Regions from separate parts of the Homo sapiens genome. Here region 2 is linked to region 1. A link means that fine-mapping ties the variant in region 1 to the expression of a gene that starts in the linked region. Tissue or cell type: whole blood. Region 1 holds a variant in brackets; the other region holds the start of a gene. All regions are shown on one strand. Distances are between the middles of the regions.

The links. PIP is the estimated chance that this variant, and not a neighbour inherited with it, causes the effect.
Region 2: it holds the start of GARRE1, and the variant in region 1 is the best candidate, but not a certain one, in a credible set for the expression of GARRE1 in whole blood (TOPMed, PIP 0.62).

What each region holds. Positions count from the first base shown.
Region 1 is chr19:34,225,095-34,230,477 of GRCh38, forward strand. LSM14A (LSM14A mRNA processing body assembly factor) reads left to right here. Exons shown (of 10, transcript NM_015578.4): 10 at 2,271-4,194. The coding sequence ends at 2,294. Among named protein-coding and RNA genes, the nearest start is that of GARRE1, 27 kb to the right of the region's middle. RefSeq lists an enhancer at 1-245. The variant A/T (reference allele first, on the strand shown) is at 2,252.
Region 2 is chr19:34,251,797-34,257,179 of GRCh38, forward strand. It overlaps GARRE1 (granule associated Rac and RHOG effector 1), which reads left to right and starts at 2,758. Exons shown (of 14, transcript NM_014686.5): 1 at 2,758-2,818. RefSeq lists an enhancer at 3,055-3,576.

The sequences.
Region 1 (5,383 bases):
GCTTTAGTGAATATGTATTCTACTTTTCTTTCCATGACAACACTCAGCTCAACATGGAGCCATAGTGGGCTTGAAGTAATTGCTTGTCATGTTGATTAGGAATTTGCCACTCCAGCCTTCAGTGAGACCAAAGGTCTGTCAATGTAGCTAGCCTTTGATTGTTCATTCCAGAGTTGAATAATCCTTTCATCTGCCACTAGAGCCCCGAACCCAGCAGCCCTACACCTCCTAAATCATAAAATCATTTCACCTGGCACCTTTAAAGGTAGAAAATGGTGAGTGATCACTGTCACATAAAGGAGATTTACCACTGAAGATTAAACTTGTATCTGAAACATCTAACACTTCCTCCCAGAGATGGACATGGATGACATTTCTGCAGCCTTCATGAAATGAGTTGGCTTTATTTTTTGTGCTATATTAGCATGAGTCATTGTGGTTTGGGGGTAAGCATAAATGAGCTTGGTTGTTTAATGAAAACATGGGTAAAGATAAAATCATAAAGTTTTAGAATCCTTAAAAGAATCAGCCAAACTAGAATCTCTACGCTACCACACTCACATTAGATGATAAGGAAACTAAGGACCCCAAGAAGTTAATTGTCATGATTGAGGTACAAGCTAACAAATCCAAAACTCACTCTCTTGACTTGTGGCCTGATTTTCCTTAAGGGTAATATTGTAAATATAGGCCAGTGCAATGGTGTACACATGTAATACCAGCATTTTGGGAGGCCAGGGCAGGATTGCTTAAGCCCAGGAATTCAAGGACAGCATGGGCAACATAAGGAGTCCCTATCTCTATAAAAAAGTTTAAAAATTAGCTGGAGTGGTGGCACATGCCTGTAGTCCCAGCTACTCAGGAGGCTAAGGCAGGAGGATCAGTTGAACCTGGGAGGTCAAGGCTGCAGTGAGCCATGATCGCACCACTGCACTCCAGCCTGGGTGACAGAGCGAGGCCTGTCTCAAAAAAAAAAAAGAAAAGAAAGAAATATAACCTTATGGTAAGTTTGGTTGTATGGTGTTTTCCCCCTCCCACCGCCCATTCTTTTTTGAGGTGAGAATGGAAATCAGGACTAGCAATAATAATGTAACCAGCTCCTGTTTTATATGCTGCTGTCAGGGAGGTTAAGCCACCATGGTGGGTGATAAAAATCACATCTGTGTTTCCTCAGATGGGGTTCAAAGACAACAAGGTGTCTGAATGACTCAGCATAATGCTCTCTCTCCTCTCCCCCTTTCATTTTCTCCTTTCTCCCTCTCCTGTCCCCATCTCTTTCTCTTTTTTTTTTTTTTTTTTTTTTTACCTTTCAGAAAACCACAGCTTTTGGACCCTAAAAGGTCTGGATTGATCGTACTGCTTTCTGAAAGGTAAAAAAAACAAATACTTTGGGAGGTGTGAAGGTTGGCTTTGTGGGGGACAGCAGGTTCATCTTGTAGCTCATTGCTGTCAACTTATGCCATACCATATGTATTTCAGTTTAATAACGGGGTGCAAATGTTTTGGTGTTGTATACACAGATGAAGTTAAGTCTCACCTAGGAAATGTCTGTTTCTAACAGTTGGGGTGAGAATCAGCAGTAAAAACCAGGTATATGGTAGCAGCTGGTCTAGAGGAAAATAAAAGCCCTTGGCTCCAGCCCTTTGTACAGGCCTTTAGTTTAGGGTCAGTCTCTCTGGAAATCTTGAGATTTTTATTGCTTCCTCACTGGTTACTTTTTAAAAATTCCCCAGTCAGCTTTCTACTTTTCAGAGCTTATTTCAGATTTAAGAGTTATCCTTGTAAAATTGATTTTTAAACCATTGCTTCCTCCTGGCATGAAATTTTGGAGAGAAATGTTATACTGACTGGGTATTTTATTGCTTAGTAAAGACATCAAAGACTTGGGGATTTTATGAAACTTGTTTCAAAGTATGTTGACAGTTGTATTTGATGAGTTTGACTATTGAGTTGAGGGTTTAAGTCCTATCACTGCTTTTAAAAAATTATTAGGGAGAACAACCAAAGATGAGGAAGTATGCCTGTATTTTGGGGTGGGGTTCACCACTGCATTAACCTCTACTGACTGGAAGATGCAGTCAACAATGAGGTACTACTGAGTATGGAAGTTATAGAAGGAGTTTCGTGGAAATGAGTGAGACAGGTTTTTCTATGAAAGTAAAAGTGGGGGAGTATATTTAAAGATAATTTAAAATAAACTTGAGCAAAGTAAAAAGAAAATAATACACCAATAATTTGGAACATGAGCTAA[A/T]TTTTTTTTTCTTTTTTAGAAAGACAACAAAGTTGCTGCATAGTCTACAAACAAGTCTCTGAAAATAGGTGAATTTCTAGCTCTTCATGGTCCTGAACATTGATTTCAGTCTTTGCAAAGAATGAAGAAGTGAATTCGCTGTACATTTGTCACCAGCACTGGGTTTTTGTTTTTTGTTTGTTTTTCCGCTTAATTTCAAAGATAAAATGCAGTTACTTTTGGGGGTGGAAGGCTCATCTTAAAACATGAGCATTAAATATATTTGGAATAGCAGAAGGTTAAGTAATTTCTTATGTATAGTTAAACTAAAGCAGTACTTCAGTGGGACTTAACAAGTATTTTTTCATCACTGAAAGGTTTTTTTTTTTTATCACTAAATTGTATTTGGCAATTGCAAGTTGCCTGCAGATAGGGCCGTGATACTGTGTTTTGAGCCACAGAAGGTTGTGTGTGTGTGTGTGTGTGTGTGTGTGTGTGTGTGTGTATGTGTGTGTCTTTTTCCTCCTTTCTTTTGGGGAATCCTGTAATATGAGGTAGCTTATTTCGTCAATTAATTAGGGTGCTGGATGGTAGAGAATTTTGTCAGTCAACTATGTACACACAGTAAATACTGTTTCTTAGGCAAAGGTAACTTTTTTATATAGTTGTAAAATTCCATTATATTCCATTGCCAAAGAAACATTAAGAACTTTGTATAGCTGTATAAAAAGCAACTAATTTTTTAAAGAATAAACATTTTAAAGTCAGCAAACATACTGTGTCCTTGCAGAAGTTGATGTGCTGAGCAGCAGCCTTATGGGTGGGTCTTTTTTTCTTAGTTTTCCAGGCTTAACATTTTTGATTTTGTTTTTTAATGTTTGGAACATAAATGAAGATTTGATACATTATTTCATTATCTAAAAAGGATTAATTATTCATGCTCATTGTAAGAACTTCATTTTGTAGCAAATGGCATATCACAGGATCTGTCCAGATAATCGATATTTTCAGTATACAAATGTAAATAATCACAGATGAGAATGTACTTAGCTGTATTTTCAAATAAGTAATCTTCCCCCCTTTTGTAGGACTTTAAAACTAGGCATCAATGAACCTGTTTTTCCTATTATGCCTGGAATTTAGTCATGATACCTTGACTCATTCCATCATATTTCAAGAGGATTCAGAGTGCTAGAAATTATTTTGGTAGCCTGTAACACACGGCAACACTGGTCCTTGGGCCTATGATGACCCACAGATGACTCAGTATAGAGTTCATTGCTAATTATAAATTACTAGTGAATCTTTTTGATATTTTAAGCTCTAGTGGGAAAAATCTGGCCACTTTTGTGTTTTTATGAAGGCCATGGAATAAAAGGATCCAAAGATTTAAATATTTTTATCTAATATTTTGATTGTTTTCTTAACTTTCTCCTTAAAACATTCAGTAGTGATAAAGATATAGAAACTGCACTGTAGGAGAATTGGAATATTTAAGGCTGGTTGACATTTTTTATTTTCATTTTATATCTTTTGTATAGCTCTACAAGGCAGTGTTTTGTAATTTGGTTTCATTATGAAGATCCAGTACTTGGCAGCCATAGTTTAGACAATATTGTTCAGTGCTGTTTGCTTGCATGTTAACAACAAAACCTTTTAGAGGACCCACAAATCATGATATTGAACACAGTTCCGAGGCATTCAGAGCATCAGAGCAAGTACCATGGCAATACATGTGTAGACTGTTGGAGATGTCCCGGGCCAATTTCAAGAAAGAAAACTGTAAATACTAGTTCTACTTGCTCTGAAATTATGAGTTTATGCGTTTTCCCAGCCCTCCGAATCACTGACTGGGGCGTTTTGTGCCCCAGCAATAACTGGCAGCATGGCATACCTGCAGTACCCCTTACAATATTAAAGCAAAGTTTTTATTCTAAAACAGAATAAAACTGTTCAATAAAAAATGCTCGTCAAAGTTCTTTCTCTTTAAATAGTAACATTCTGTTTCAGTAGGAACATAATGAAAGGAATCTTTTAAATGGAAGAGCGGAATTATAATGTTTGTATTCCCTGTAATAACTATAAATCAGTTACTTTATTTCTAAGATTGAGTTATTGTTGCAGATGTTTAGGGAAAGCTAAAAGCCCCTTCCTTCCCCTCCTGTGTGTAAATAAAATACTTCTGAGATCAGATCCGTGACATGAGGAGATTGAGCCACCCAGGCACAGGCCAGGCTGGAAACAGCAGCCAGAACACACTCCCTGTGGGCAGACGCATGAAGAAGATGCAGAATCTGTCTATTAAAACAGTTCGCTCCAAAAGCTGGGCTTCATGTGATGGTAGGGCAAGAGGTCGGGAACAGCAGTGCAGCACAGTGGCTCTCGGTGGGGTTACCTGACATCCTAGGAACACAGTCATCTGTTGCTTAATAATAGCGACATGTTCTTATTTTTAAATAGCAATGAGGTCTCACTTCGTTGCCCAGGCTGGTCTCTAACTCCTGGGCTCAAATGATCCTCCCATCTTGGCCTCCCAAAGTGCTAGATTACAGACATGAGCCACCAGGCCCGGCCATGACACATTCTGAGAAATGTGTTAAGCAATGTCATCATTGTGTGAACATCAGAGAGTGTACTACACAAATGAAGATGGTATGGCCTACTCCACACCTAAGCTATATGGTGTAGCCTGTTGCTCCTCGCTACAAACCTGTACAGCATGTTACTGTACTGAATACTGTAGGCAGTCATAACACAGTGGTATTTCTGTATTTAAAACATATCTAAACAGAAAAAGTATAGTAAAAATACGGTATCATAATCTTTGGGACCACCATTGTATACCCAGTCCATCGTTGACCAAAACATCATTAAGTGGTGCGTGAGTACTGAGGAATGTGAGGGGATGTGTTTTGGTTGTCACAATCACTGGGGATCACCACTGGTATTTAAAAGTAAGGGCCCGGATGGTAAATGTCCTGTGCTGTGCCACACAATCAGTTGTCCAACCCAAAGTGCAGTAGTGCTCCTCTACTCTGAGAAACACTGGCTAAAGTCCCTCCACATGGAAAGACAGTAAGTGGGAAATTATTTCCTGCCAACTTGAAAAAAAAAATTTACTACTTAGGAAATTGTCCGCTTGGGAATATTAAT
Region 2 (5,383 bases), 27 kb after region 1:
ATGCCATGTTCACACTGGAACTCGGGCCATTCTTCCCATCCTCCACCCTCCCAAATATGGTCCTCTTCCGGGGCTTCCCAAAACAATGAGTGCCAGCACTACAATGGCTCATCCCAGAGACCCAGGAGACATTCATGATTCCTACCTCTTCCTCACCCTCCATATCCATTTCACCACTGATTTTACATCAATTTTATTCCAAAATCTTTCTCAAATTTGACTTTCTTTTTTTTTTCCATCCCCATTGCCACTACCATAGTCCATGAATGGTTTTCAAAGGGAGGTTCATGTACCCCATAGTATGGGAAGGCAATCCATTGGGATACTGGGAGAAAATATTAGAACTTCTACATTTCTTTCTTTTTTTTTTTTTTTTTTGAGATGGAGTCTCGCTCTGTCACCCAGGCTGGAGTGCAGTGGCGCAATCTCGGCTCACTGCAAGCTCTGCCTCCCGGGTTCACACAGTTCTCCTGCCTCAGCCTCCAGAGTAGCTGGGAATACAGGCGTCCACCACCACGCCCGGCTAATTTTTTGTTGTATTTTTAGTAGAGACGGGGTTTCACCATGTTAGCCAGGATGGTCTCGATCTCCTGACCTCATGATCCGCCCACCTCGGCCTCCCAAAGTGTTGGGATTACAGGCGTGAACCACTGCACCCGGCCTCTTTTTTTTTTTTTTTTGAGATAGATTCTCGCTTCATCGCCAAGGCTGGAATACAGTGGCGTAATCTCAGCTCACTGCAACCTCTGCCTCCCAGGTTCAAGTTGTTCTCCTGCTTCGGCCTTCCAAGTAGCTGGGATTATAGGCCTCCACCACCACGCCTGGCTAACTTTTTGTATTTTTAGTACAGATGGGATTTCACCATGTTAGCCAGGATGGTCTCGATCTCCTGACCTCATGATCCGCCCACCTCGGCCTCCCAAAGTGTTGGGATTACAGGCGTGAACCACTGCACCCGGCCTCTTTTTTTTTTTTTTTTGAGATAGATTCTCGCTTCATCGCCAAGGCTGGAATACAGTGGCGTAATCTCAGCTCACTGCAACCTCTGCCTCCCAGGTTCAAGTTGTTCTCCTGCTTCGACCTTCCAAGTAGCTGGGATTATAGGCCTCCACCACCACGCCTGGCTAACTTTTTGTATTTTTAGTACAGATGGGATTTCACCATGTTGGCCAGGCTGGTCTGGAGCTCCTGACCTCAGGTGATCCTCCTGCCTCAGCCTCCCATAGTGCTGGGATTACAGGCATGAGCCACCATGCCTGGCCCGTCTCTATGTTTTTGACTACTCTAGGTACCTTATGTAAGTGGAATCATAGGATATTTGTCTTTGTGACTGGTTTCTTTTGGCATAATATCTTCAAAGCTCATCTATTTGCATCGTAGCTGGGATTATAGGCATGCGCCACCACGCCTGGCTGATTTTGTATTTTTAGTAGAGACGGGGTTTCATCATGTTGGTCAGGCTGGTCTCGAACTCCTGACCTCAGGTGATCCACGCGCCTTGGCCTCCCAAAGTGCTGGGATTACAGGCGTAAGCCACGGCGCCCGGCCTCCTTCAACGCTGAGTAATATTCTATTGTTATGTTTATACCACATTTTGTGAACCCATTCACCCGTGGATGGACATTGGGTTGCTTCCACCTTCTGACTAATATGAACATGGGTGTACACATTTATATCCACTCTTGCCTCCCCTCCGTAGTCCTTCCTTCTCCACACTGCATCTAGAGTAACCCCTTTACACTCTCAAGTATGGACAAATCACCTCTTGCTTAAAACTCATTAGTTTTGCAACACTGTCAAGTAAGACCTAACTTCTCACCACTCTGATTTATTATTGGAACACAAAACTGGGCCATGCTCCGTGGCTCAAGCACTTTGGGAGGCCGAGGTGGGCGGAACACCTGAGGTCAGGAGTTTGAGACCAGCGTGGCCAACATGGGGAAATCCCGTCTCTACTAATAACACAAAAATTAGCCGGGCGTGGTGGCGCACGCTTGTAATCGCAGCTATCCGGGAGGCTGAGGCAGGAGAATCACTTGAACCCGGGAGGTGGAGGTTGCAGCGAGCCAAGATCACGTCACTGCACTCCAGCCTGGGCGATAGAGCAAGACTCCGTCTCAAACAAACAAAACCCACAGAACTGGAAGACCCTTGCTGCTGCTTCTGCGTAATGTGTTCTCCTCCCTTCTCGTTTTTTTTTTTTTTTTTCTCCCTTCTACCCCTTAGGACCTCAGCTCCTGCTCTTTCCCTGGGGGAATTCCGGATCACTCTCCTTTACTAGGTCAGGGTACTCTCTCCCTCCCTCTTACTCTTTCCCCTCCTACCACTTGTCACCATTGGTACTATATTATCACCCGGATATGTGACAATGGTATTGTGTATTTACCACTAAGGAATAAACTTATGAGGGAGAGAGCACTACCCGTTCCTGCAGTGCCCGTCGGGGCCTGGCATCTAGGAAACACTCCATACGCCAGTAATCGATTTCAGTCAATTTCAGTAATAAATCCAGGAGGACGCAGCCCGACCCCTCCCGCCCGGGGGCCAAGCCATGGTGGGGGATCTGGGTGGACCTCCGGCTCTGGCCGCCAGTCCTCAACCTCCGCCCCGGCCGTCCCGCTTGGGGGCCCAGGGTCCCAGGAGAGGAGGCTCCGGGGCGCCCCCTCCCCTCTAATGCGAGAGGAGAGTCCGCTCTAGGCGCGGGATCCGCAACCTCCCCGCGTCCGCCCGAGGCGGGGGCGGGGCCGGACCGGAGACGTAACTTCCGGTGTACACAGCCGGTCCAAGGCGGTGCGCTGGGGGCCGGGGCGCGTCGCAGGTGAGGAGCGGGCGCGGCGGGCGCAGGCGGGGGCTGGCGGGCGGGGTCGGGCGGTGGGCGGTGGGCAGCGGGGCCGCGGGCCGCAGCCAGGGCAGACGGCGAGACGGGCCCGCGGGGCGCCGCTCCGCTCGGGGCCGCAGGGCGCGGGGCCGTGGGCTCCCGCCCCTTGCCCGCCCGCTGTGGAGGACGCCGGGCTTTGCGGGCGCTGGCCGGCCGACGGAAGCCCGGAGGGGCCTCCTGGCGCGAACCCGGGACCTGGGGGCGCGTCGGAGACTCGGCGGCCGCGGCACCGCAGGGGCGGGTCGGCGCCCGTCAGGCGGGGAAAGGGGACGCTCCCTCGGTTCGCCGGGGCCCGGGAGGTCGCGCTGGCGCCAGGACCCGCTCCCGGAAGCCCGCGGAGGGAGGGCGGCCTGCTGGCGGCAGGGGTCCGCTGGGGCTAGCCGGGGAGGCGGCCCTCACGCCATCCCGGGGCTGCCGGGCGGGCTGCGCGCACCTTCCCGGCGGCGCCAGGCTGCCGAGGAACGCGCTTTTCCGGCCCTGCGGAGCCAGCTGGCGCATTGGGCCCGAGGGGAGGGTCCGCGGGGACCGGGAGGGCCGGGGCTGAGCGTGGAGGACCCGAGCCCGAGGGACGAGCGCAGAGTCAGGGGTGTGTCTTTCTGCGCCGCGCGGTGCGAGGAAAGAAGCGTGCCTGGTTGGCATGATAAGAATTTTGTTTAGACTTTTTAGAAATTTTCCAGAGACTCAGCTTTGGGGGCCTCCAGTTTGAAAATACCTTGTTCTGGTCCCTCATCCCCATTATAAAAGCAGTTAATTCTCCTTTCCTGGCAAAACACTCAAGACGACACAAAAAGTCTTAAGGTAGAAAATGACAGTCATCTGCCAGTCTACCATTCAGTGACAACCACTGCTAACATTTTGGTGATAATCAATAAATACAGATAGGTATTGTTATTTTTATGGACTTTACAGTATGTGATTTAACCACCGATGAGCATTGAGATAGTTTCCAATTTGTCACAAGATAAACAATTCTGCCGGAAGGATTTGTTTGATATGGTCTTTTTTTTTTTTTTTTAATAAGAGACTGTTGCCCAGGCTGGTCTCAAAACTTCTGGCCTCAAGCGACCCTCACGCCTTCGCCTTCCAAAGTGTTGGGATTACAAGTGTGAGATATTACACCTGGTCTGATTGTTATCTTAGAATAAATTTACAAATGGGGTCAAAGGTAACTTTATTTGTTTTTTTTTGAGACAGTCTCCCTCTGTCACCCAGGCTGGAGTGCAGTGGCGGGATCTAGATTAACTGCAACCTTAGCCTCCCGGGTTCGAGCGATTCTCCTGCTTTAGTCTCCCGAGTAGCTGAGATTACAGGCACCCACCACGCCCGGCTAATTTTTGTATTTTTAGTAGAGACAGGGTTTCGCCCAGTTGACCAGGTTGGTCTCGAACTCCTGACCTCAGGTGATCCGCCTGGCTCGGCGTTCCAAAGTGCTGGGATTATAGGCGTGAGCCACCGTGTCCGGCCGTAACGTTCAATTTTTAAGAATACATAGTATTTGTTTTCCTTTGACATATTTGGACAATTTTTCTGTCTCTTTGTCATAAAAAAAAATTCCAGCCTGGCGCGATGGCTCATGCCTGTAATCCCAGCACTTTGGGAGGCCGAGGCGGGCGGATCACTTGAGGTCAGGAGTTCTAGACCAGCCTGGCCAACGTGGTGAAACCCGGATTCAACTAAAAAAATACAAAAAAACACATTAGCCAAGCATGGTGGCGCGCTCCTGTAGTCCCAGCTACTTGGGAGGCTGAGGCAGGAGAATCGCTTGAGCCCAGGAGGCGAAGGTTGCAGTGAGCCGAGGTCGTGCCACTGCGCTCCAGCCTGGGCAACAGAGTGAGACTCCATCTCAAAAAAAAAAAAAAAGAAATTCATGTTTGCGTCTCATCGTTTCATGGTTTTATTTTTTTGCCTTTAGTCTACCTAAAATTCATTCTTGGTTTAAAATATGAAATATTTTGTAAATGGCTAGTCAGTTCCAGATTTATTGAATAATATGTAAGCTTTATCATTTTATCATATTTTAGACTAAAAGTTCTAAGTGTATGTTTGTAAGGGCTACTTACAAAGTTCATATTTACATTTTGTGTGTGCTTAGATGTTTTCAAGTGTCTTTAAAAATCACAGTATTTTCTTTTCACAGTATCTTCACAATATTTTGTTTTAAAAAGAAATCATTTTCCAATACAAGTACAGGGAATATTTCATGTTTGAGATTTTTTTTTTCTTTTTAAAGCAAAAAGTTTAGTTTATTGCCGTTTCATTTGCTTTCTTGCTGACAAGATAACAAACTCCATATGAAGAGTTCAGGTTTGTTGTGGCAACTTTTCAGTGTGGCATTTGAGATTCTAATCTTCCTCTATTTTTGCACACAAATACGTAGGTTGGCATTGGAGACCAAGATAGAAAAGTTCTCAGATTCCCTTGGCAAGCCTAGATTTTTCAATCTAAAATTATCTCCAGATGTTTGGAAGACCATGTTTTAAGCATCCTTTTTTTTTTTTTTAAGCA